Linked DNA regions of Homo sapiens. The protein of the gene in region 7 purifies or fractionates together with the protein of the main gene of each other region. This does not show direct contact. Each region holds a gene or a part of one and is shown on either strand. Other genes may lie near its edges.

Region 1 (3,500 bases), on a different chromosome or scaffold from region 7:
GGTGTTGGGCCTCAGGAGCAGCACAGCAGAGGACAGAGGAAGGGTGTCCTGCAGAGCGGGGGGACAGGGACAGACCAACAGATCTTCACCCCAGACAGCACCTCCCACCTCCACAAGGCCCAGGGCACGGGACCCGATGGGAGGAACTGAGGCACACCCCCAAACGTGTGTGCAAACCATGACCCAGGGACCCACTAAGAGGCCAGGAATCGCCAAACCTGAGAGGGAAAGGGGATGTGACAGATGGGGAAACTGAGGACTACAGCCAGCCAGGACTGGGAAGTCACAGTGCCTGTGGGGCCCGGGACTCCGACCCAGGTCTGGCTGGATGACTTGACAATTTTGGTGACATCGGGGGAGGGACTTCCCTGCAAACCGCCCCGACACAGATTTGTTAATAAGACGAGCACAAAAACAAAAGGAAAGGAGGAACTGCTCCAAGAGCCTGGGGGCCATCCGGCGGCCCTGCGGGGTGCCACAGAGTTGGCCTCGGGAGGAAGCTGGCCCGGGACCACCCCTGGCATCCAACAGCTCAGAAGATGCCCCCGCTCCACCTCTCCAACCTAAGCAGTGCCACCTGAGGGTCTCCTTGACCATCCCCTCACCGGACAGCCAACGCCAGCCAGAACATGCCGCCCAGGACCCATGTGTGCCCACGCTCTGGGCCGCACGTGTGCCCACGCGCTGGGCCCCGCCCCCACTCCTGCCTTGGCCTTGCCATGCTTCTGTCCAGGCCACTCACTCCCTGTTGTCCATCTCGGGTGTCCACGCACAAGCCCGGGCCCCACTGTTTGTCCAACACCTGCCCGCGCCCCCACCCGACGCCGTGGCCTACCTTCCCGCTTCATGCCCATGGCCAGGCACTTCTGGTAGCGGCAGTACTGGCACCGGTTCCGCTGCCGCTTGTCAATCAGGCAGTCCTTGTTGTCGCGGCAGGTGTAGGTCAGGTCCTTGCGCACCGTCCGCTTGAAGAAGCCCTTGCACCCCTCGCAGCTGTACACTCCATAGTGCTTGCCTGCGGGACAGGGCAGAGCAGGGCTGGGGAGCACCCACCGCCCCGGCAGGGAGCCCACCCCCCATCCAACGCCGCCACTACCAGCTGGCGGGCCAGGCCTCAGAAAGGGACCTGCTGGTCTCCAGACCCCTGCCTGGGCTCAGACTGGGCCCCAGCCTCACTCTCTCTGCTCCTCCGAGGACAGCTTAGGAGTGGGGCAGGGACAAATCCCAGCCCACCAGGGACCAGGGCCCCAGGCAAGTCACCTGCTCTGTGTCTGCACTGTGCAGCCCGTTCTTCCCTCTCAGGCCGTTGGGGGTCAGTGGCACAACACGGGCCCCTTGCCCAGACCCAGCCAAGGGAGGAGGCGCAGCACTGGCTGCCCCCATGCTGACCTTGCCATCAGCAGCCACCTCCTCTCCGGAAGCCTCAGGCTGCCCTGTGCCCCACCCCACCCAACACTCACTGTCCCACAGACGTGAGAACCCTGGAATGGCCTCGCGGAGCCCTGGGAGTGGGGCATGGCCCAGGCACCTGCCTCCCTGCACCCTGGCCTTGGGTCCTGCTTGGCCCACAGGAGGGTGATTTGGGGAGGCCTCCAGACCCTGCAATGGCCTGACAACCCTGTCCCACCAGCCCCTGGCCCCCACAGCAGCGGTACCTGAGGAGCGGTCCCCGCAGATGGCGCAGATGTGCTTGGTGAAGGAAGCCATGTTTCCTGAGGGGTGGGCGGGGACCTTGAGGACGCCATTGAGGCCCAGGGGGGGCTTGATGTCCTCGCTGCTGCTGACGGGGTTCATAGGTGAGCTGAGCTGGGGGGGGCAACCACAGCAGTCAGCGGGGTGTACACCAGGTTTGTCCCTATGTCCCCCACGGCCCTGCAGCAAGGATGGCGCAGCTGTACCCCCAACTTCACACACAGACACCGAGGCTAGAGAGGGCCGTGCCCCCCACCCGCCACGCTGCTCCGGAGCAGCGGGGCCACTGTGCTTGCTCAGCAAGGCCAGCAGAGGCTGTGGCAACCTCAGGACTCGCCCGCAGCAGACCCCAGGCCTCTGTGGAAAAGGACCTTCAACACCCCCCCCAACACATGGGCGGTCCCTGCTTGCAACCCCCTGCCCGCTGCCCACCTAAATGAGAGCTGCCTCTCATTACTGAGCCCCTGGCAGTGCCCAGCCCCGCTGGGTGCCCCCGGACACTCCATGAGGCAGGCACTCTGGGGGGTCCCAACCCACACATGAGGACGCCGAAGCCCAGTTCCCAGGACGGAGGAGGGCTGGGGACCCCCCCAAGAACCACACATACACCCCACAACACCGCAGGGCAGGGGCCCTGGTCACGTGACCCAGGAGAGGGGAGTGGACACCCCCGGGCATCGGGTGGCACGACACCACTGGCCTCTCTGCACACCCCTCCGCCCCACCCGCCGGCCCGCACGCTGCCGCCCGGGCAAGCGTGGGAAACTCACCCGGTCACCCTGGCAACAGCTGCAGCGTGCAGTGACACAGCAGTTTTGGTTCCGCTGCCTCCACCCAGCTCTGCAGTCAGCGCCGAGGACCCACAGGCGCTTCCCGCTGCAGCCTGCCAGCCAGCCTGGCTGCGCAGGGCGGTAAGCGCTTGGCCAGGCAGCCCCCAGCCTCCACTTCTGCAAACCCCTGCCGCCGCTTGTGCGCAGGAAGCTCCCCTCCTTCCTTCCTCAGGCCTCCAAATCCCATCCCCCCTTCTCACGGGACAGGAAGAGTTTGAGGCTCAATGCAAGCAAAGCAGAAACCACCGCAAAGCCTCCTTTCACATGGACCTCGGTGCCTGGAATGAGTCTTCCAGCCCCAGCTTGTTCTGGCTTCTAGGTTCTTCCTCGATCTGCCCAGGTGGGCTGTGAGGCTTTACAAGGATGCTTGGTCCCTGCAGGACTCAGGTGGGCTGCGAGAGGCCAGGAGGTCCCCCGTGACAACTCAGCACAGTGGGGGTGCCATGAAGCTCCCACTGGAGAAGCGGGTGGCCACTGTGTGACTCACCAAATGCCCAGTGTTCATGTCCACAGGCAGCAGGTGCGCTTCTCAGAGAAGGGAGGGAACTGAAGGGGCAAGAGAAAGCCCCAGACGTCTGCAGAGGGGTGCGGTGCCTGGGCTTTGCACCCACACTTGACACTCCCTGCATGGGAAACCCTGGGTGTCCCAGATGCAGAGGCTGCGGCTCAGGGAGGTCAGGGGCTGGCCAAGGTCACACATGATCCCCCACGCTGCAGAAGGCGAAAGTGAAGCCCCTGGAGGGACAGAGCTCGTCCAAACTAAGTGCCCAGCTGGCCCTGCCCCGTGCTGGGCTCCGGGAGGCACCAGGGGACAAGGCCCTGCCCAGCCCTCCAGGGCTCGCTGGTCTAGTGGCTGTCTCGCTTGGAGGCACTGGAGGCCCCAGAGGCGGATCCCTGGCTCCGGATTCTGCCTGCCTCCTACGTTCTCGTGTGACATTCGGAAAATGATTTAATCACTGTGAGCCTGAGTTTCCTCGT
Region 2 (3,500 bases), on a different chromosome or scaffold from region 7:
ATTCTCATGCCTCAGCCTCCTGAGTAGCTGGGACTACAGGCACGCACCACTATGCCCAGCTAATTTTTGTATTTTTAGTAGAGATAGGGTTTCACCATGTTGGCCTGGCTGGTCTTGAACTCCTGACCTCAAGTGATCCACCCGCATTGGCCTCCCAAAGTGCTGGGATTACACAGACTGACTTCTTGAGATACATCTTGTAATTATATTGATGATTACAATTGATTTGTAACACAATACCTTTATTTCAGTGGTAGCCTGGATAACCAGGTGCCTTATTTTCCTTATAATGATCTAATATGTAACACTTGTAGGAATTTGTAGAGTACTTTTCTTGACTTTTTTCTTTGAGTTAATTTTAATAACATTAATTGCCTTGTTTAAGTCAGTCACCTCTTATTGTACTCCAGTATTTTTAAAGTATCAACCTGATACTTTAAACCTGGTAGGAGCACACATTTCAGAATCTAAAGGACCTTGTTTGAATCACTTCACTGAAACACAGATTGCTATTCACCTGTCATTTGCCACTTTTCCATCAGGTTTGCCTTAAATAAATGTATTTCATTTAACTACTTTTCTGTATCCTTTTTTTTTTTTTTTTTTTTTTTTGAGACAGAGTTTAGCTCTTGTTGCCCAGGCTGGAGTAGTTCAGTGACACGATTTCAGTTCACTGCGACGTCCCCCTCCTGGGTTCAAGCGATTCTCCTGCCTCAGCCTCCCGAGTAGCTGGGGTTACAGGTGCTTGCCACCACGCCTGGCAATATTTTGTATTTTTAGTAGAGACAGGGTTTCACCATGTTAGTCAGGCTGGTCTCAAACTCCTGACCTCAGGTGATCCACCTGCCTCGGCCTCCCAAAGTGCTGGAATTACAGGTGGGAGCCACCACACCTGGCCTGTATCCTGATTTTTTAACTTTTTTTTTGAGACAGAGTCTTGCACTGTCGCCCAGGCTGGAGTGCAGTGGCGTGATCTCGGCTCACTGCAAGCTCTGCCTCCTGGGTTCACGCCATTCTCCTGCCTCAGCCTCCCCAGCAGCTGGGACTACAGGTGCCTGCCACCACGCCCGGCTAATTTTTTTTGTATTTTTAGTAGAGACGGGGTTTGGTCTTGATCTCCTGACCTCGTGATCCGCCTGCCTCGGCCTCCCAAAGTGCTGAGGATTACAGGTGTGAGCCACCACACCCGGCCCTGATTTTTTAACTTTATGTATGGGACTCAACCTGTGAAATTATTCTTGACAAGGAGAGGGTGAGTCAGAATCATGTGTTATCAGCTTTCATTTATATGCATCCTTTGGTACAGGTGAGAGGTAGATGATTTGTTTTTCTGACATTTTATTATGAAAAATTATAAGCATTTAGAAAATTATAAGAATTTTACATTGAACACCCATAGTTTTCTTCCATTAACATTTTCTGTGCTTACAGTACCACATATGTGCTCATTCGTTTATCCATCAGTGCAGACGTGTGTATACTTCCCCTAAATACTGGTTTGTTTTTGAAAGTTTGTTCCTGGCTTATACCCTCCTGTATTCTCAGTTGACAGATCTTTACATAAAGAGTCTGCTTTTTTCTCATTTTTGTGCATCTTAGCACTTTAGTGGTATTGTAATGGAATATTACATCTAGTATGTACAGTGAGAGAGGAGCTCTTGAATTTTTGGTATTTTCTGAAGTTTAAAAAAAAACACCTAAGATTACATAGTGAATAGGGAAGTAAAACCCAAGGTTTTTGGCTATTATCTTTTATCTCTTGTTTACTTCTCCTGACCTTACTAAAACAAGTTCTTTTCCAAACCAAATTTATTTATCATTTTAGTACCATGGACCTACTATAAGAATTGTTACATATCAGTGATTAAAAGTATATGCTCAAAAATACATATACTTAAAATCTAAAATATTTAATTCAGTTTTATTGTCATTAAAAGGGTTTTTGGAGAATTATAGCAGTAATATATGTTATAAATATATATGCTCATGTAAGAGTGAGAAAAGAATATAAAATATGGCAAAAATTGAATTTTATAAAAACTTTCCTAGAAGAAGGATTGGGAGGACCTATAAACAGTTCTCTCTGGGCTGTATGGCAATGTGGATGGGTTGTTTTTTTTTTAATTTTGCTTTAGTGTATTTAAATTTATTCAGTAAACCTAAATTTTTAATCAGAAAAGACATTAAAAATTCAGCAAAGAAACCTGTTTTGTAGCTTGTATTTACATTACTCTGAAATTAAAAATTAGAACCCATTTAAGGGATGTTGTGTAGATCGTCATTTGGTTCAAGATTTGAAAATAAAAATACATTTTATTAGATACTTAATTCTGAACCGAAATCAGTGAACCAAGCAGGGTGGCTAAAAAGCACAGATGGATCAGTAAAAATTGAAGCAATTTTTCATGTATTGAAATGACTATACATATTTTTTCATGTATTATCTCAATTATCATCTGCTATAACCAAAGAGAATCTAGTATTTTCATTTATTCAACAGGAGGGATTCTTAGATTTTGTGGATAATTGGGCTGAGTAACTTAGTTATCCACCAACACAGAGGTTCTGTGATTCTGTTCAGGCCAGCAAAGGTTTTTTGAATGATCCTACTCTAGGGATGTGTGTTTTTGGGGAGAGGGGGTGATGCAAATTAAAATAGTCTTCTTTGTAGGTCAGAATATAGCTACTATGTATAGAATACTTATTATGTATGCTATAGGTACTATGCTAAATTATTTACATACATTATTTTATTCTGTTATCACCCTATGAAGTAGGTTTTTTTTGTGGTCTTTCTTTTGCCAGGTATGGAAACAAAGATGAAGCAGGTTAAATTACTCACCTAAGGTCACATAGGTAGTGATTATAAAGCTTGATTATTGCTCTCTGGAATTTTAGTTTATGATGGTTAAAACTGAGGAATGGAATAGTATTGAATAATGGAAAGACCACCGGAAGTAGAGTCAAAAAGCTTAGTTTGTCTCTGCAACTCACTTGCTGGTTAACCTTAGACAAGTTAATTGACCTCTCTGAACTTCTTGTTTATTCTGTGAAATGTCTTATTTATGACATCTTTATCTTCCTCATAGGAAATTCTGAGACTCAAACATGATAATATATGTGAATATGTGTTATGAATTGCTAAATGCTAGACTAGTTGGGGTTGTCAGGACAGTGGAAGGGGAAGAAAAGGGAGACTGTTTCCTAACTCTTAACAGTCACTGTTACTTTATTTGAAGTTGGATTGAGAAGAATGGGAGTAATTGGACTTACTTGCACATTTGTATTACAATTGTTAAACTCCTAAGGATACTGATCAAAATTAATTTTCAATTTTTTATCTTTATTTGAAAAATGGCCACAATAGTTAATTGAATATTCTGGTTAGCCTATTATCTTAAGGTATGTAAAAATTATCAATATGCAAGTACAAAACATATTTGTTAAATATTACATAGAAGCTGTTTTTTCCCTCATATTTCAGAAGTTAAGGACCTGAA
Region 3 (3,500 bases), on a different chromosome or scaffold from region 7:
GAGGCGGACAGGCAGGCCGCAAGGGTGGGCTGCAGGGGAGTTTGTCTCCGAGTCCTTCTGTGCAAACCGTGGGAAGGAAGACTGTTTTTCCTTGAATATGCAAAAAGAAAGCAGCAGTCCTTATGCTGGCCCAGAACTGCCGGTTGAGAGAAAAGTGAATTTCCATTTCCAGAAGTAGGGCTACAGGCAAGGGGGGGCTACGGGCCAGGTTCTCACTGGCCTATGCTGGGCACGGCGGTGCAGGACACTGAGTGGGAGGAGACTCCTGGACCCCAGGAATGTCACCTTGTTTGGCGCCCTCCTTCTCATTTCCACTTCACAGATAAGGAAACGGAGGCCAGCTGGGAGGAGGCACTTTCCCTTGCCGAGGCCCAGAGCTAAAGGTGGCAGATGGGGGCTGTAGCCCCGGAGCCCACAAGGACACCTGGGGCCTCAAAAATGAGGCCTGGGATGGCTGATCTGCTGGGGGAACAGAGGGAAAGGCTTTAGATCTGGGCATGGAGAGGGACCGAGGCTGGCCTGTGTGGGCTCGTTCTACCGGATGAGGAAGGCAGGTGTCCCAGGCTCAGGTGGTGGGCGGGGCAGGTGTGGCTGGGAGCCAGGGTGCTCTCTGGAGGTGCAGCCAGAGATCCAAGGTCAACCCTGGAGGGACAGGCAGTTCCTGGTTTTTTCTAAACATTAGCTTCGAAACTTCCAGAGTTAACACGCCGGAATCGTGTTGCATATTATTGAGCTTCCAGTCTGGGGTGCTGCGTGGACCACGTTGAATGCCCAGGGACTCCGTTGGGCAGATAGAGGGGTGTCAGGAGCATGGAGTCAGCCCGGCTGGCCTGCAAACTGCAGATGCTGGAAGGCCCGTCAGGTGGGACCTCCCGTCACCAAGCAGATCTTAACAGGCCTCTGCTTCTTGGTGGAATGTTCTGGTACATTGGCAGGATGCACTGGGAAAAGCTACCATCCTCAGGCCATGTCCCCCACACAGTGTCATTTTCCTCCATTTCTGAACACTTCTCTCTCACCTCCCTGTCAAGATATACCTTGCTGGGACCGGGCATCCTGGAGTTCCCTGCTTGGCAGAAGCCCAGAAAGGCCCAGATAAACGCTGCCCCTTGGAGCCACCAACACCAGAGGGACAGAAGTGGGGGCTAAAAAAGAACTTAAGGCCAGGTGCAGTGGCTCATGCCTGTAATCCCAGCACTTTGGGAGGCTGAGGCGGGCAGATGACTTGAGGGCAGGAGTTTGAGGCTAGCCTGGGCAACATGGCAAAATCCCATCTCTACTAAAAATACAAAAATTAGCCACGCATGGTGGCTCATGCCTGTAGGAGGCTGAGGTGGGAGGATCGCTTGAGCCCTGGAGGCCAAGGCCGCAATAAGCCATGATTGCACCACTGCATTTCAGCCCAGGTGACAGAGCAAGACTCTGTCTCTGAAAAAAAAAAAAAAAAAAAAAAAAAAAAGAACTTAAACCTCAGCATGGCAGAGCTGTGTGCAGACCCTTATAACTAACACACCGAATAACCATACCACGTTGTGAAACTAATTCCTCCTTTTCATTTGCAAGTAACTCTCCCCTCTGCCTTTTTTTTTTTTTACTGTTAGAAGCTTGCAGTGTATTTTTCTGCTCAGCCATGATTTTTTAAATTAGTATGTTAATAAATGTGTTGCCATGCTAAAATGAATCTGTTTGAAACGTACCTGCATGCAAACTATTCTAGGACAACTCAAGTTTTAGCTGCTCTGTGTGCGTTGTGTATGGGAGTCATCTGAAGTGTTTTTCCTGTGTTGTTCACAACCCGTTAAGCCCCTGGGATAAAGCTGATTAAAACTGGGATTCCCCAGGGTACCCCCGTCCAGCCTGTTAGCCAAGTTACAAGCTTTTCTCAGAGAAGCGCCCCGGGCTTGTGCCCACCAGCATTCTGCTCTGTCCGGGTGAGTAACTCATATTTCTTTCTTTCTCCTTTTTTTTTTCTCCTAAACTTTCCAGGTAAAAGTACACCTGTAAGCCAGCTTGGTTCCGCAGACTTTCCCGAGGCCCCCGATCCATTCCAGCCACTCGGGGCTGACAGCGGCGACCCGTTCCAAAGTAAAAAGGGGTTTGGGGACCCGTTTAGTGGAAAAGACCCATTTGTCCCCTCCTCTGCAGCTAAACCTTCTAAGGCCTCTGCCTCGGGCTTTGCAGACTTCACCTCTGTAAGTTGAGTCCTCCGCCTCCGGGCCACCCCACTCCCTTCCGCTTGCAGCTTCCCTGGGATTTTTGTCTCCTTTTAAAGGCAAACCTCCCAGCTTCTTTAGCCTCTTGGTACCTCACACTCTCTGTCCCTCGCGTTATTTATTCTACACTGCCACTTCTGTAAGAAAAACAGTTTCTCAATAAAAAAAAAAAGAGCCGCAGTTTGGATGCTCTATCATAAGGGCACGTTTTCTTCCAGCAGGGAGGCGGGACCTATCTGTCCTTCACGGTAGATTCATTGTATTATTTCTGACGCACCGAGGCTGTTGTGTTCACTGGTTTTTGGAAGCCAAGATGTCAAACACTTCCGAAGTATGAAAAGAAGATTGCGAAAGTTACATTAGGGTTCTGCTGTCCCCAAAAAGCCCTTTGTGCACAAGTTCTCACAGTCCCGCCCCATGCATTTTGTGCCACAAGTGCAAATTGAAGGACTTCAGGCAGATCGCGCCAGGGAAGAGCAATTTGAAGTTTTTTTTTTTTAAAGCTTTTAAATTTCAGTTACCAGCTCCAATGAAAAAAGAAATCCAGTCTAGAACAGCCACTCTGAAAGCCAAAACAAAAAGAGCTCCAAAAAACTGTTGAGCAAAGTTAAGTGCCTTTTCGGAAGCAAATCTCGGGATTTCGAAAGCCTGGCTTTGTTTTTCTCTGTGTGAAAAAATATTCCAGATTGTAACATGCCGTCGCTTCAAGGAGTTTTTAGCAGCTTCCTTGATACATGAAAATCTTGTTCTCTGAAAGCTTCAGGTGTTGTCTTCCCAGAATTGGTTTCACTATGTGTGATGCCCTCGCTTTCTTCCTTTGGGCTTGTTAGTTCCTTCATCATTAGGTGTGAGATGTGTTATTTATAGATGCTTCGACTCCTGGGATGGCTCTTTGAACACAGCCCTGCCATGTCAATGCACAGAAAGCACCCGATTTGTTTCTGAGCCGTCTTGATAATCTCTACCGTGCACAGCTATCCTATGGCTTATTTGTCAATTTATTTATTTTAGTGACAGGGTCTCGCTGTGTTGCCCAGCCTGGTCTGCATTGGCGCGATCAGAGCTCACTTGTAACCTCGAATTCCTGGGCTCAAGCGATCCTCCTGTCTTGGCCTCCTGAGTAGCTGGGACGACAGGCGTGCAACACCACGCAAGGCTAATGTTTAATTTTTTTTTTTTGTAGAGGTAGGGTCTTGCTGTGTTGCCTGGGCTGGTCTGGAACTCCTGGCCTCAAGCGATCCTCCCACCTTGAAGTACTGGGGTTACACGTGACTGGCCCATGTGGCT
Region 4 (3,500 bases), on a different chromosome or scaffold from region 7:
AAGCTGAGGCTCAAAAGGGTTAAGTGACTTGCCCAAGGTTACCCAGCTATCGAGAACTAGAACCAGGGCTAGGGCCGCGGCAGCCTGGCCTGAGCACACACACCCTTAGCATCTTTGCTGTCCAGCCCTTGATGAGGTGGGCAGAGAAGCCCATTTCACAGAGGAGGACGCTGAGGACAGGGAGGCGCCATGGCTGGGCTGAGGCTGCAGGGTAAAGGGTATGGGGCTGGCATAGGCCTGGAGCACTGCCTGCCTCTGAAGACCCTGCACTTCTTGCTGTCTTACATCCTGGCCCCTGAAGGGGAGAAGACAGGCAGGAGGGACAGGGCAGCAGGTGCCAGCCTGACCCCTCCGCTGCCTGAACCTTCCACCCTCGACCCAGGCAAGACCACACCATTGTGGACACAGTGCTGATGGCGCCCCGCTCGGCCAAGCCGGCCCTGCTGAAGCTTACAGAGAAGCAGGTGGAACAGAGGGCCTTCCACGACCTCAAGGTGGCCCCCGGCTACTACACCCTCACTGCAGACCAGGGTAGGAGGGCGGGTCCGCTGTGCCACTGCCTCGCACCTCCCGCCTGTGTGGCCCTGTGACCCACCTCTGACCACCTCCGAACCCCCACCCAGACGCCCGGGGCATGGTGGAGTTCCAGGAGGGCGTGGAGCTGGTGGACGTACGGGTGCCCCTCTTTATCCGGCCTGAGGATGACGACGAGAAGCAGCTGCTGGTGGAGGCCATCGACGTGCCCGCAGGCACTGCCACCCTCGGCCGCCGCCTGGTAAACATCACCATCATCAAGGAGCAAGGTGGGTCTGGGTGGGGAGAGTGGGGAAGGCAGACGGGGGCTCGGGGGCACTGGTTCCTCCTGCTTAAGTGGAATTGCGACCTGGCCACGTGGCCTGGGCTAGTCACTTAACCTCTGCAAGCCTTGGTTTCTCCATCTGTAAAATGGGTAAGGGCTCTTTTACGGAATGCGTGGCTGTTCACCTCGCCACAGTGCCTGCCTGGTGGTGAGCGCTCAGTAAATGGAAGCTTCTGTTGCATCCTCATAAGGGCCAGCCCCTTGCTCCTCTCTATCTAGAAAAAGGGTTGGCCAAGGCATCACACCGTGGACATCTGACCCCTCCTCCCACCTGTGCCGGAAGCCACAGGCCTCAGGCCTGTTCCTGCTCTCCTCCAGCCCTGGGGCTGAAGGCTCCATCTCTGGTCCTGCCCGTGACTGGCCTCCCTCCTCTGCCTGGCCCTTCCAGGATGTCTGCTGGACACTTTGTTCCAGAACCACTTTTTTTTTTCTTGGGACAGAGTCTTGCTCTGCCACCCAGGCTGGAGTGCAATGGCACCATCTTGGCTCACTGCAACCGCTGCCTCCCAGGTTGAAGTGATTCTCCTGCCTCAGCCTCCCGAGTAGCTGGGATTACAGGCACTCGCCACCACGCCCAGCTAATTTTTCTATCTTTAGTAGAGATGGGGTTTCGCCATGTTGGCCAGGCTGGTCTCGAACTCCTGACCTCAGGTGATCCACCTGCCTCAGCCTCCCAAAGTGCTGGGATTACAGGCACAAGCCACTGCGCCCGGCCCCTCATCTTTTTCTGGAAGGATTTTCCGTTTCGCTCCTGTGCCCTTCCCAGAGGGCAATGCATAGAGGGAACCAAGCGGACTCCTGGATTCTGGGCTGGGCTGGGCAGGGTCACAGGAGAGCAGGAGGTGGGAAGGGACTGGGCCCAGCACACTCTGACAAATGCCCGGGCTCCTTGCAGCCAGAGACGTGGTGTCCTTTGAGCAGCCTGAGTTCTCGGTCAGCCGCGGGGACCAGGTGGCCCGCATCCCTGTCATCCGGCGTGTCCTGGACGGCGGGAAGTCCCAGGTCTCCTACCGCACACAGGATGGCACCGCGCAGGGCAACCGGGTGAGGCTGCGCCACAGGGTCGAGGGTGCAGCCCGGGGGGCTGCGTGGGCACCGCATTGGGTTCCCAAGACAAAGCAGCACATGGCAGCTGCTTGAGTCCCTGGATACTGGCCGTGCCCCTGGCTGGCCTCCCAAGGACACGTCCACCTGCTCCTGCCACCCTGTGGCAGGGGAGTCTCACCTGCCCAGGGTGCCAGTGACACGCTGGATGAGGCTCCATTGCTGCCAGGGACTCAGGCCAAGAGGGCTCGCTCTTTTTTTTTTTTTTTTTTTTTTGAGACAGAGTTTCGCTCTTGTTGCCCAGGCTGGAGTGCAATGGCACAATCTCAGCTCACCGCAACCTCCACCTCTCGGGTTCAAGCGATTCTGCTGCCTCAGCCTCCCTAGTAGCTGGGATTACAGGCATGTGCCACCACGCATGTCTAATTTTGTGTTTTTAGTAGAGACGGGGTTTCTCCATGTTGGTCAGGCTGGTCTGGAACTCCCGACCTCAGGTGATCCGCCCGCCTTGGCCTCCCAAAGTGCTGGGATTACAGGCGTGAGCCACCGCGCCCGGCCCAAGAGGGCTCTTTCTTCCTTCATGGGCCAGGGACCTGCCCAGACCATTCCTGTCCCCTCCTACAACTCAGGATCCACAGGGTAGCCAAACCTCTTGGAGATAAACTCCCCCTATATGCCCCAGTCCAGGGGGCTTTGGGTTTCTTGAGCTGGGATCGAAGACCCCATGTCCCCAGGCCAGACTCCCCAAGGGCTGTCACAATTTGCCAAGCAGCAGGAGCAACCCTTCAAGGCAGGGAGTGCCATGGCTGGACCAGCATCACCTTCACTGCTGAGCCCCAGTGCTGGGGTACAGCCAAATCAGGTGGCACACAGGCTGGACTGGGTTTACAGGCTTCATAGTTTTGTTTCTTTTGTTTTGTGTGGGGATTTTTTGCTTCTTAATTTTTGGGGGAGACAGGGTCTTGCTATGTTGCCCAAGCTGGTCTTGAACTCCTGACCTCAAGTGATCCACCCACCTCGGCCTCCCAAAGTGCTGGGATTACAGGAGTGAGCTACCACGCCCGGCCTAGTTTTTGTATTTTTAGAAGAGATGGGGTTTTGCCATGTTGGCCAGGCTGGTCTTAAACTCCTGATCTCAAGTGATCCGCCCACCTCGGCTTCCCAAAGTGCAGGGATTACAGGTGTAAGCCAGTGCACCTGGCCTTTCTAGTTTTTAAATGTTGGCAACAAATCCATAATTAAAAACAAAGGCGGGGCATGGTGGCTCACACCTGTAATCCCAGCACTTTGGGAGGCTAAGGTGGGAGAATCACTTAAACCCAGGAGTTCAAGACCAGCCTAGGCAACGTGGTGAGACCATGTCTATACATATAATTTAAACATTAGCTGGGCATGGTAGTGCATACTTGTGGACCCAGCTACTTGGAAGGCTGAGGCAGGAAGATCACTTGAGGCCAGGAGGTTGAGGCTACAGTGAGCCATGTTCATGCCACTGTACTTCAGCCTAGGCAACAGAGTAAGACCCTGTCTAAAAAAATAATAATAATTAATTTTTTAAAAATCAAACAAAAAAACAAAGAAACAAAACCTGGCTCAG
Region 5 (3,500 bases), on a different chromosome or scaffold from region 7:
CACAAAATGAAACCCTTCCATTTCCATGTCCAAATCCAACTTAAGAAGCAACAGTAGAAGGTACAGAGAGCACGTGAGGTATTTTTAAAAAAGAAAACATTAAAAATTAAGGCAGGTTGGAAGAAAATGAAAAGGACAATGAGAAACAACAAAATAACTAAAAAGTGGCTAATGGAGCTTTTGTTTTGAACTTTTGTTTACAGGATCTAAAAGGATACATAGCCTTTGGAGATTGAACAAAACGATTTTGCTGAATTGCCTCCTAAAATTGCAAGGCTAAAATTTTCTGTTACATGTTTAAGGATTTTAACATATTTACTGAATCTGGAAATGACCATCAACTTAAAGAAAACATGACAAAATGAAGTTTTCTAGACAAAATTTAAACCAGGATGGTTTTTTTAAAAAAAGTGATTTTCCAACAATGTGTATGTACATTTCAACAACAGTGTGATGAACCAGACTTCGGAAAGAAACAAATTTACACGAAAAATGGAAGTGGATGAAAACCAAACTGATTAGCATGGCATGGTGAACATCATACTGAATTACTGCTAAAGATACTGGATATTGGCAAGACATTATCTAATGTCAGAATGAAAAAACACAAAACTGGCCGGGTGCGGTGGCTCATGCCTGTAATCCCAGCACTTTGGGAGGCCAAGGTGGCTGGATCACTTGAGGTCAGGAGTTCAAGACCAGCCTGGCCAACATGGCGAAACCCTAAAAATACAAAAATTGGCGAGGCATGGTGGCTCACGCCTGTGGTCCCAGCTTCTTGGGAGGATGAGGCAGGAGAATCACTTGAACCCGGGAGGCGGAGGTTGCAGTGAGCTGAGATGGTAACACTGCACTCCAGCCTGGATGACAGAGCAAGAATCCTCAAAAAAAAAAAAAAAGAAAAGAAAAAGAAAAAACACAAAACTGCTAAGAGTGATTAGTTAAGTCTGAATAACATAAACCATGAACAATAACTTAGCAAAAGGATGTGATGCAAACACACAGGATATCCAACTCTATCTTTAATACAGATGCTGCAGTTAGTGCATTGTGACTGAGTTTGAAAACGTATTCAATTTTCTAAGTTTAGCTGATATAATTATATATCATGCTGGCAAAAAGAAAGATACAAGCAAGAATAGTGTGGAAATAAGTTTCAAATAGCAATTTCTATTAAAAACACATTAAGTTGCTACAACTACTTTGAAAAACCTGAAGAATAAAGTTACTACTTGGGTAAATAATCCAAAAACTTTGGACTTCCCCAAATAGAAACTTCAAAACATTATTTATATGCTTTAGGAGAAATATTTTTGCCCAATTCAAAAACTAACTTGTGGCCGACTCTGGTTGCACTGCCTATGAGTTAGCCCTATTTAAAAAAAAGAAAAAGAAAAAACTAACTTGTATTTGATGCTTCAATATAAAAAAGGGAATTTTTCTGCTGTTAGAAACATCCTTAAACAGCTAACTAAACGCAGTGTTTTTTCTTTGAGAGTGGGAAAGCAGAGGAATAAATGAGTAAGGATATTTTATATGTTAAGATTTTTACATGGTTCCATTGAAGGAGATATGAGAGCTCAATATAATCCAAATATAAACATATATGGGTGGGGGGAGCTGGAGAGCCTCAGTGAACAGCTGCTAAGATACACAGCACTGGCCAGTCTGCACATACACAAAATGAGCAAGAGATTGTCAGAGCTCACAGAAGACAGAACAAGTCCAAAGGGACATGCCGTGAAAGACAGTTCCTATTTTGTGTATCTGCTTCAAGCACCTATGCCCTATTTTAGAGAAACTATATTATTATATTAAAAATAAACATGAAAGATGAATGTTCTAGCTGCTCTTAAGTGTACTGGGAAGAATAAACAAAACAATAGGCCTAGATGAAAAACTGCGAGTATCGTCAGTCATCTTTTATATGTCAAAGTATGCAATGCTTAAATAAAGAAAGAGAGACTGAGGCTGGAATGACTGTCAGGAAGCTTATCTGGTTTGGGCCAAAAATACAGCTAAATTGGTTTCAAATTAGAAAGATGGATCTCCTGATCAAACTTTTTATTTTTATACTCTAAACTCTGAGTTATAGAAACTTTCTTCCCCCTTCTTTTTAAAATGGCAATCCTAAGAGGGAAGGGCATATATCTGTTTTAATCTCTGTATGACACCTCAAAATATGCAGTCATTTAATTAGCCATTAATGGTTAAAATCCTATTGCCGAACCCACAAGTTAAAAATAGGAAGATTCATGTGATAGTAGAAGTCAAGATTAGTACTGCGTGTATTTTAGTATTCTATGTATTCCTAGAAAAGAAAATTAGCATTTTGGTCTTTGGTATTTCACTGATTCTTAAAATATACTCAAGAAGCTAAGCTGATGCTTAGGTGTCAGCTTGTCTTTGATACTCACTGTATCTGAATCCTCCAACACTGTCTGAGGAAACCCCAACATACTTGTCTTTGTTCTTCTTTGCTTTCTTTCGCTCTTCACGAAGCCTGTCGTCATCCTGGGCAAATTCAACCAATTCCTTCACCTTCTGTCGAATATTTATACCTTGATCCTTACCATGCTCATCTATGAGGATGGTAAGAGATAAGCAAAACCTAAGAATTCACTTAATATGTATCAAGCTCTTTAAGATTAAAAAAAAGACACAAAAACTTCAACATAAGAAACTTCAATATTTAAAAAACAATAGAAAGGGGCAAGTTGTGCTATTTAACTTTGTCATTTCCTCTTCAGCAAATTCTAAGTTCTAAAATGGAATTTTGGCTTATAAGAGCATGTAAAGATGAACTAAAAAGGACCACAGATAATGGTACTATGCAAGGTCAATTAAAGATTGACCTAAAAAGGATTACTGATGATGACCACACAAAATAGACATATCCATAAGTGCTATTGTGTTTTTCTATCATATTTTAAGAAAACAAATCAAAAGAAGAACCACTTTAGCATGTTAATAACTGAAAAGCACACAAATGTCTTGGTTTCCCCAGTACACGTCTGGAACACTAATTATGAGGTTTTAGCATAGCTCAAAAACTGAATTTTTAAAGTGCTTACAAGTGGGGTACGCTACAAAATGAAATGTGCTTCATTTTCTAGCCTCTTTCACATTCAAAACACACTGTGGCCTTGCTGCCTTTGCACAGTAAATATTATTTGGTGGGAGGGAAAAAAACCCCAGCTTCAAACAGATGTGTGTGTTTTGGAGCTCTAACCTTTTCTTCCCATATGATTAAAGCTATTCCTTTATGGACACCACAGGGGACCAGTCTCCAGTGCATATTTTAATATAAACCCGAACACTCATGTTGTGTTGGTTCTGTTGTTATTAGCCAGTCTTTTCTGCAAGTTCTTGTCTTCACTAATTAATACTCTAGGGCCCCACGTCTTGGATTCTGCACTCGTCACACAACCAGCAACAGTCACATTCTAATTAGAGCAGAGAAGCTTCTAAGCTGGTTCAGGTGACTGACAACTCCAACT
Region 6 (3,500 bases), on a different chromosome or scaffold from region 7:
CTTGCAGTGAGCCGAGATTGCGCCACTGCACTCCAGCCTGGGCGACAGAGCAAGACTCCATCTCAAAAAACAAAACAAAACAAAAAAAAACTAGGGTCGGCGGCCAAGCATGGTGGCTCACACCTGTAATCCCAGCACTTTGGGAGGCCACAGTGGGTGGACTGCTTGAGCCCAGGAGTTCAAGACCAGCCTGGATGACATAGCGAGGCCCCGTTTCTACAAAATCAAAACTTAGCTAGGTGATGCATACCTGCAGTCCCAACTACTTGGGAGGCTGAGGTGGGAAGATCAATTGAGCCCAGGAGGTCAAGGCTGCAGTGAGCCAAGGTTGCGCCATTGATCTCCAGCCCGGGTGACAACGTAGTGAGACCCCTGACTCCTGACTCAAAAAAAAAAAAAAAAAAAAAAAGAAAGAAATAAAAAAAAATGAAAAATGAGGCTGGGCGCAGTGGCTCACGCCTGTAATCCCAGCACTTTGGGAGGCTGAGGCAGGTGGATCGCTTGAGGTCAAGAGCTTGACACCAGCCTGGCCAACATAGTGAAACCCCATCTTTACTAAAAATACAAAAATTAGCTGGGCATGGTGGCACACGCCTGTAGTCCCGGCTACTCAGGAGGCTGAGGCAGGAGAACCCAGGAGGCAGAGGTTGCAGTGAGCCGAGAGCTCGCCACTACATTCCAGCCTGGGCGACAGAGTGAGACTCCGTCTCAAAAAAAAAAAACCCGGCTGGGCGCGGTGGTTCATGCCTGTAATCCTAGCACTTTGGGAGACCGAGGCGGGCAGATCAAGAAGTCAGGAGTTCAAGACCAGCCTGGCTAACATGGTGAAACTCTGTCTCTACTAAAAATACAAAAATTAGCCAGGCGTGGTGGCGCATGACTGTAATCCCAGCTACTTGGGAGGCTGAGGCAGGAGAATTGCTTGAACCTGGGAGGTGGAGGTTGCAGTGAGCCAAGGTCACTCCACTGTACTCCAGCCTGGGTGACAGGGCGAGACTCCATCTTGGGAAAACAAAAAACAAAAAAACAAAAAATGACTACGAAAGCTTGTTCCTACAGAGCATATGTACAGACAGGCCTGGCTGAGATCCACAGGCAGACACTAGGCCCGCCTGGAGGTTGAGGGCTGCTGGAAGGGTGGGGGGATTTCTGCATCAAAAGATAAGAGATTCAAGTGCACCAGGATTAATCAGAGGGAGGAGAAATCCCGGGTGGAGTCCTCTCCCTCCTTTCCCCTTTCCATGAACCCACTGTGCTGATACAGAAACAGACCAGAGAAGCAGACGCTCAGCCACAAAGGTTCAGAACTGGGGAGAGGGGCCACCCCGTTCCCTGCAGACCCACCCTGGAGATGGAAAATCCGAGGGCTGGGAAGGCGCTGAGACTGGGCCAGAGCTGGGACTTCAACCTACTCCCAAATCATGACAAATTGGTGTCTGAGGGCAGTCACAACACCCATGCTACAGATGAGGAAACTGAGGCCTTGAGGGGGAACCCGGCCATGGGGGACAGAGGTGGACTGGAACCTGCACTCATCTGACTTCCCCACGAAAATAACAGCAGCCCCTTGAAGAGAAATGTGGGGCAGTGGGAGGCCCCCAGCTCCCTGTCTGGGTGTGGGGAGGCCCCTCCCATTCTTCCCATTTTCCAGCAAGGGAAACTGAGTCTGCATAGCATTTGGGATCTCAGCTGGGGACTATGGCTAACGCCTGTAATCCCAGAACTTTGGGAGGCTGAGGTGGGTGGATCACTTGAGCCCAGTTCAATCCCAGCCTGGGCAACATGGCGAAACCCCATCTCCTTTTTTTTTTTTTTTTTTTTGAGACAGAGTTTCACTCTTGTCACCCAGGCTGGAGTGCAGTGGCACAATCTCGGCTCACTGCAACCTCCGCCTCCCAGGTTCAAGAGATTCTCCTGCCTCAGCCTCCCGAGTAGCTGGGATTACAGGCACACACTATTACAGCCACACACTATCATGCCCAGCTAATTTTTGTATTTTTAGTAGAGATGGGGTTTCACCATGTTGGCCAGGCTGGTCTTGAACTCCTGACCTCAGGTGGTCCACCTGCCTCTGCCTCCCAAAGTGCTGGGATTACAGGTGTGAGCCACTGTGGCCGGCAGGCAAAACCCTATCTTTACGAAAATTACAAAAATTAGCTGGGCATAATTTTTGTGGTGCGCGTCTGTAGTCCCAGCTACTTGGGAGGCCGAGGTGGAGAGATCACTTGAGCCCAAGTGTTTGAGAGCAGCCTGACCAACATGTCGAAACCCCGTCTCTACTAAAAATTACAAAAATAATTAGTTGGGCATAGTTGCTGTGGCGCACACCTGTAGTCCTAGCTACTTAGGAGGCTGAGGTGGGAGGATCACTTGAGCCTCAGAGGTCGAGGCTGCAGTGAGCTGTGATTGTGCCACTGCACTCCAGCCTGGGGGATAGAGTAAGACCCTGTCTCTAAAAAAATAAAAAATAAAATAAAACAAATTAAAAACATCTGGGACCTAGTTTCTCAGCCTCAAGGTGGAATAAATACAAGGAACAAGAAGAGAAAGAGAAGCAAAACTGCCTTTCCATCTCCCTGCCTTGACCAGGCTGGGCTGGGCATTTCGGACAGGGGTGATCCCTTCCTAGCACAGAAAGCTGTTTTCCTCCCCCCAGCTCTCAAAGGACTACATTGTTATTAATGATGCGATGATTGTTATCATTACAACTTATATTGCTATTGGATTTTTTTTTTTTTTTTTTTTTTTTGAGACAGAGTCTCGCTCTGTCACCCAGGCTAGAGTGCAGTGATGCGATCTCAGCTCACTGCAAACTCTACCTCCCGGGTTCACGCCATTCTCCTGCCTCAGCCTCCTGAATAGCTGGGACTACAGGCACCCGCCACCATGCCCAACTAATTTTTTGTATTTTTTTTTTTAGTAGAGACGGGGGTTCACTGTGTTAGCCAGGATGGTCTCAATGTCCTGACCTCGTGATCCGCCTGCCTCGGCCTCCCAAAGTGCTGGGGCTACTGTGATTTTTATTACTTTTTTTTTTAAGAGATGGGGGTCTCAGCCTGGTGTGGTGGCTCACGCCTGTAATCCCAGCACTTTGGGAGGCCGAGGTGGGTGGATCATCTGAGGTCAGGAGTTTGAGATCAGCCTGGCCAACATGGCGAAACCCCATCTCTACTAAAAACACAAAAAATTAGCCAGGTATGGTGACAGGCGCCTGTAATCCCAGCTACTCGGGAGGCTAAGGCAGGAGAATCACTTGAACCCGGGAGGCAGAGGTTGCAGTGAGCCAAGGTCGCGCCATTGCACTCCAGCCTGGGCAACAAGAGCGAGACTCCGTCTCAAAATAAATAAATAAATAAATAAAAAAGACAGGCGTCTCACTGGAGTGCAGTGGCACGATCTTAGGTCACTTGGGCCCTGAACTCCCAGACTCAAGCGATTCTCCCACGTCAGCTTCCTGAGTAGCTGGGACTACAGGTGCAAACCACCATGTCTGGCTAATT
Region 7 (3,500 bases):
CCGATGTTTCTGTCAAACAGTGTCAGCAGCGGTATGAGGACATGAAAAATCGTCGTGATAGTGAATATATTTTCAGTGCAGAATTTATAACTGCTGACAGCTCAAAGGTACAGTTTCTTTCTTTGGTCAATTTATTTTTTACATTTTTAGTTTGGGTAAATAATTTGTTTTAAAAATCAACTCAATTTTTACTTTTTTAAAAAAATTTACTCTTATTTTTTGAGACAGGGTCTTACTCTGTCACCTAGGCTGGAGCACAGTGGCACGATCTCAGCTTACTGCAACCTCTGCCTCCCAGGCTCAAGTGATTCTCCTGCCTCCCAGCCTCCTGAGTAGCTGGGACTACAGGCACATGCCACCACACCCAGCTAATTTTTATATATTTTGTAAAGATGGGGTTTTGCCATGTTGCCAAGGCTGGCCTCAAACTCCTGAGCCCAGGTGATCTGCCTGCCTCCCATAGTGCTGGGATTACAGGCATGAGCCATGGTGCCCGGCTACTCATTTTTTAAAATGTGTTTTGAAACTTTAAAAATCTTGGAATATGCATTTTCACTTTTGACTGGAAATTCTATTATGATAAATTCCCTTGAATGACTCACTGAATACTTGTAATTTTTTGCTTTTAATAATTTGAATTGAAATTAGCTGTTGCTTTTCGGTATGGACATCATTTATTTTCCAGTATTTTGAAATAGAACTGAACTTATACTATGTTTTGTTCACCTTGTAATTTATTAGTTTCCCAACATATCAGAGCCTGTTTGGTTTTTTCCTACCTTCCACCTGTTTCTGAATTTCTTAAAAAGAACTGCTTCAAGGGTGAAAGTCTCACCATGAACTTTTTGTTCTTCATTGACTTATTGACTCACTGAACTGTTATAGATACCTTTAATCATACACATTTTGTTTGAAATTTGAAAGTGAAAAAGATAAGTGGGAGTATACTGCCAGAAAGTTGTAATACCTTTAAAACATTTTTGCATTTTTTAAAAAATGCCAAACGCCAGATGTTTTTTAACTCAAGTTATTGTTGAATGTCATTTTATTTTAGCTGTCAAGTAAAGTGATGAAAGGATCAAGTTGAAATGTCATAATTGACTAATATATTTTAAACATGATTTCAGAATTCCTCAGTTTTTAAATACTGTGAAAGTGGGAATCAAATTATTCTGTTAAACTAGAATACATGCATGATTTCTGTGTGTCCTTTATTGTACAAGGGAAAGATTGTGAGGGAAAGGAAGAACCTTACATTCTAGAAGTTAATTTACTAAAAAGTTTTTAATCTTTGTTGTAGTTACCTCACAATCTTAACTCATTTTAATTTGTTTCAGGAACTTCTGATTGACAAATTTCGTGACCCACAAATGTGTTTTGACATCTGCAGTTGTCAGTTTGTCTGTCATTACTCATTTGAGTCTTATGAGCAGGCTGACATGATGCTGAGAAATGCGTGTGAGAGACTTAGCCCTGGGGGCTATTTTATTGGTACTACTCCCAATAGCTTTGAATTGATGTAAGTACTTCTAAATATATTGTGGTTTATAAAATATTCAGTATTAAGTAGCAAATGTTTATCAGAGGTAGATTTTATTAAAATACGCTATTTTAATCTTATAAGTGTTGAACACTTTCATAAGATATTTGAGTAGACATTCAAAATTTAAATTCAATAGACAAATTTACAGGTGAACTTTTAACAGTTCATCTTTGTGTGTAAGTTAGAGACTGAAGTTATAGTGATAGACAAACTGCAGGTCAGATACACAGGCACAGAGATGAACCAGCTGTCATGAGAGTGATACCTACTTCCAGCTTAATTTTATTGGTGTGACTGTTGGTGATCTTTTAGTATATTGCTTCTTAAAAGTAGCTCAAATCAGGAGAGTGCAGTGGCTCATGCCTATAATCCTAGCACTTTGGGAGGCCAAGGCAGGAGGATTGCTTGAGGCCAGGAGTTTGAGACCAGCCTGGACAACATAGTGAGACCTTGTCTTTACAAAAAATTTACAAATTAGCCAGCATGGTGGCACGCCCCTGTAGTCCTTGCTCAGGAGGCTGAGGCAGGAGGATCACTTGAGCCCAGGAGTTGGTGGCTGTAGTGAGCTATGATCACACCACCACACTCCAGCCTGAATGACAGATTAAGACCTTGTCACTTTAAAAAAAAAAAAAAAAGGTAGCCCAGATATAATTAAAAGGCTAATCAAGTGTGCATCATGTAGTTTTTCACATGCATAATCTGATCAAAATAAGTCTACACTAATCACAATTTTAATCTTTTTATTTTGGTTGGGGGATAACCTTGATAGAAGACGCCTTGAAGCTTCAGAAACAGAATCATTTGGAAATGAAATATATACTGTGAAATTTCAGAAGAAAGGAGATTATCCTTTATTTGGCTGCAAATATGACTTCAACTTGGAAGGTGTTGTGGATGTTCCTGAATTCTTGGTCTATTTTCCATTGCTAAATGAGTAAGAAGTCATTAATCTGTTCACTCTTTTCTTTTTGTCTTAAGGGAAAGAAAAGCGGGGAAAAGCAATATTTATTTTACTCTTTATTTTAAATGAGGGCTAAAGAAAAAGTATAATCTTGTTTTTTTGTTTTTGTGTTTTTAAAAAAAAAAAACAAAACAAGACTAGCTTCACATCTAGGGGATTATTGCCATAGGTCTCATAATAGCCTAACTTAGTTTTCTCTCATTCCTGGAATTTTTTAATCCTGTGGGTGAAAAAGGGAACCAGTTGCCTTCAGCTTGTGGCACAAAATGCCTGACACTGCAAATAGCAAAAGTTTTTTTTTTTTTTTTAGTGACTACTGGTAACTTTGATGATAAACAATGAGTCTTCATAAATCAAAGATCCGGCCGGGCGCGGTGGCTCACGCCTGTAATCCCAGCACTTTGGGAGGCCGAGACGGGCGGATCATGAGGTCAGGAGATCGAGACCATCCTGGCTGACACGGTGAAACCCCGTCTCTACTAAAAATACAAAAATTAGCTGGGCATGGTGGCGCGCGCCTGTAGTCCCAGCTACTCGGGAGGCTGAGGCAGGAGAATGGCATGAACCCGGGAGGCGGAGCTTGCAGTGAGTCGAGATCGCGCCACTGCGCTCCAGCCTGGGCGACAGAGCGAAACTCCGTCTCAAAAAAAAAATAAATAAATAAATAAATAAATAAATAAATAAATAAATAAATCAAAGATCCTCCTTTTGACAGAGATGAGTATTAAAAGTTGTTTGCATTTCACTATAACTTTGAAATTGCCTATGTCTCACAGGCAATGTTGATGATAAAATCCTGATTCAGGAATGTATTCTCCCATGTGCCTGAATTCCTAGGAGTCCTGGCAAACTGTAGACACAGGAAAAGCTGGGGGTAACTGGGCCTTACCAGGTAAGGCTTCAAGGCCTTGTGATACACCTTGGTTTCCAGAGTTTCCCCGGTGGGGAGAGTATAAAAGTCAGCTTAAATGTAGGCCATGTCATGATTGATTG

What was found.
Region 1: the proteins of RNMT (region 7) and RXRA fractionate together in Homo sapiens (co-fractionation; one large-scale study listed by BioGRID). This does not show direct contact.
Region 2: the proteins of RNMT (region 7) and DLD fractionate together in Homo sapiens (co-fractionation; one large-scale study listed by BioGRID). This does not show direct contact.
Region 3: the proteins of RNMT (region 7) and EPS15L1 fractionate together in Homo sapiens (co-fractionation; one large-scale study listed by BioGRID). This does not show direct contact.
Region 4: the proteins of RNMT (region 7) and ITGB4 fractionate together in Homo sapiens (co-fractionation; one large-scale study listed by BioGRID). This does not show direct contact.
Region 5: the proteins of RNMT (region 7) and CLINT1 fractionate together in Homo sapiens (co-fractionation; one large-scale study listed by BioGRID). This does not show direct contact.
Region 6: the proteins of RNMT (region 7) and NFIC fractionate together in Homo sapiens (co-fractionation; one large-scale study listed by BioGRID). This does not show direct contact.

Annotation. Positions count from the first base shown.
Region 1 is NC_000009.12:134,406,455-134,409,954, reverse strand, and holds part of RXRA (retinoic acid receptor RXR-alpha), read right to left. Parts: intron 3,396-3,500; exon of another isoform or gene 2,463-3,395; intron 1,807-2,462; coding exon 1,656-1,806; intron 1,016-1,655; coding exon 836-1,015; intron 1-835. UniProt on the Homo sapiens protein: Receptor for retinoic acid that acts as a transcription factor.
Region 2 is NC_000007.14:107,897,683-107,901,182, forward strand, and holds part of DLD (dihydrolipoyl dehydrogenase, mitochondrial isoform 1 precursor), read left to right. Parts: intron 1-3,500. UniProt on the Homo sapiens protein: Lipoamide dehydrogenase is a component of the glycine cleavage system as well as an E3 component of three alpha-ketoacid dehydrogenase complexes (pyruvate-, alpha-ketoglutarate-, and branched-chain amino acid-dehydrogenase complex).
Region 3 is NC_000019.10:16,360,471-16,363,970, reverse strand, and holds part of EPS15L1 (epidermal growth factor receptor substrate 15-like 1), read left to right. Parts: intron 1-1,986; coding exon 1,987-2,192; coding exon of another isoform or gene 2,193-2,201; exon of another isoform or gene 2,202-2,393; intron 2,394-3,500.
Region 4 is NC_000017.11:75,741,959-75,745,458, forward strand, and holds part of ITGB4 (integrin beta-4 isoform 1 precursor), read left to right. Parts: intron 1-382; coding exon 383-531; intron 532-623; coding exon 624-803; intron 804-1,754; coding exon 1,755-1,903; intron 1,904-3,500. UniProt on the Homo sapiens protein: Integrin alpha-6/beta-4 is a receptor for laminin. Plays a critical structural role in the hemidesmosome of epithelial cells. Is required for the regulation of keratinocyte polarity and motility.
Region 5 is NC_000005.10:157,810,646-157,814,145, forward strand, and holds part of CLINT1 (clathrin interactor 1), read right to left. Parts: intron 2,583-3,500; coding exon 2,418-2,582; intron 1-2,417. UniProt on the Homo sapiens protein: Binds to membranes enriched in phosphatidylinositol 4,5-bisphosphate (PtdIns(4,5)P2). May have a role in transport via clathrin-coated vesicles from the trans-Golgi network to endosomes. Stimulates clathrin assembly.
Region 6 is NC_000019.10:3,376,583-3,380,082, reverse strand, and holds part of NFIC (nuclear factor 1 C-type), read right to left. Parts: intron 1-3,500.
Region 7 is NC_000018.10:13,740,173-13,743,672, forward strand, and holds part of RNMT (mRNA cap guanine-N(7) methyltransferase), read left to right. Parts: coding exon 1-107; intron 108-1,337; coding exon 1,338-1,519; intron 1,520-2,315; coding exon 2,316-2,480; intron 2,481-3,500. UniProt on the Homo sapiens protein: Catalytic subunit of the mRNA-capping methyltransferase RNMT:RAMAC complex that methylates the N7 position of the added guanosine to the 5'-cap structure of mRNAs. Binds RNA containing 5'-terminal GpppC.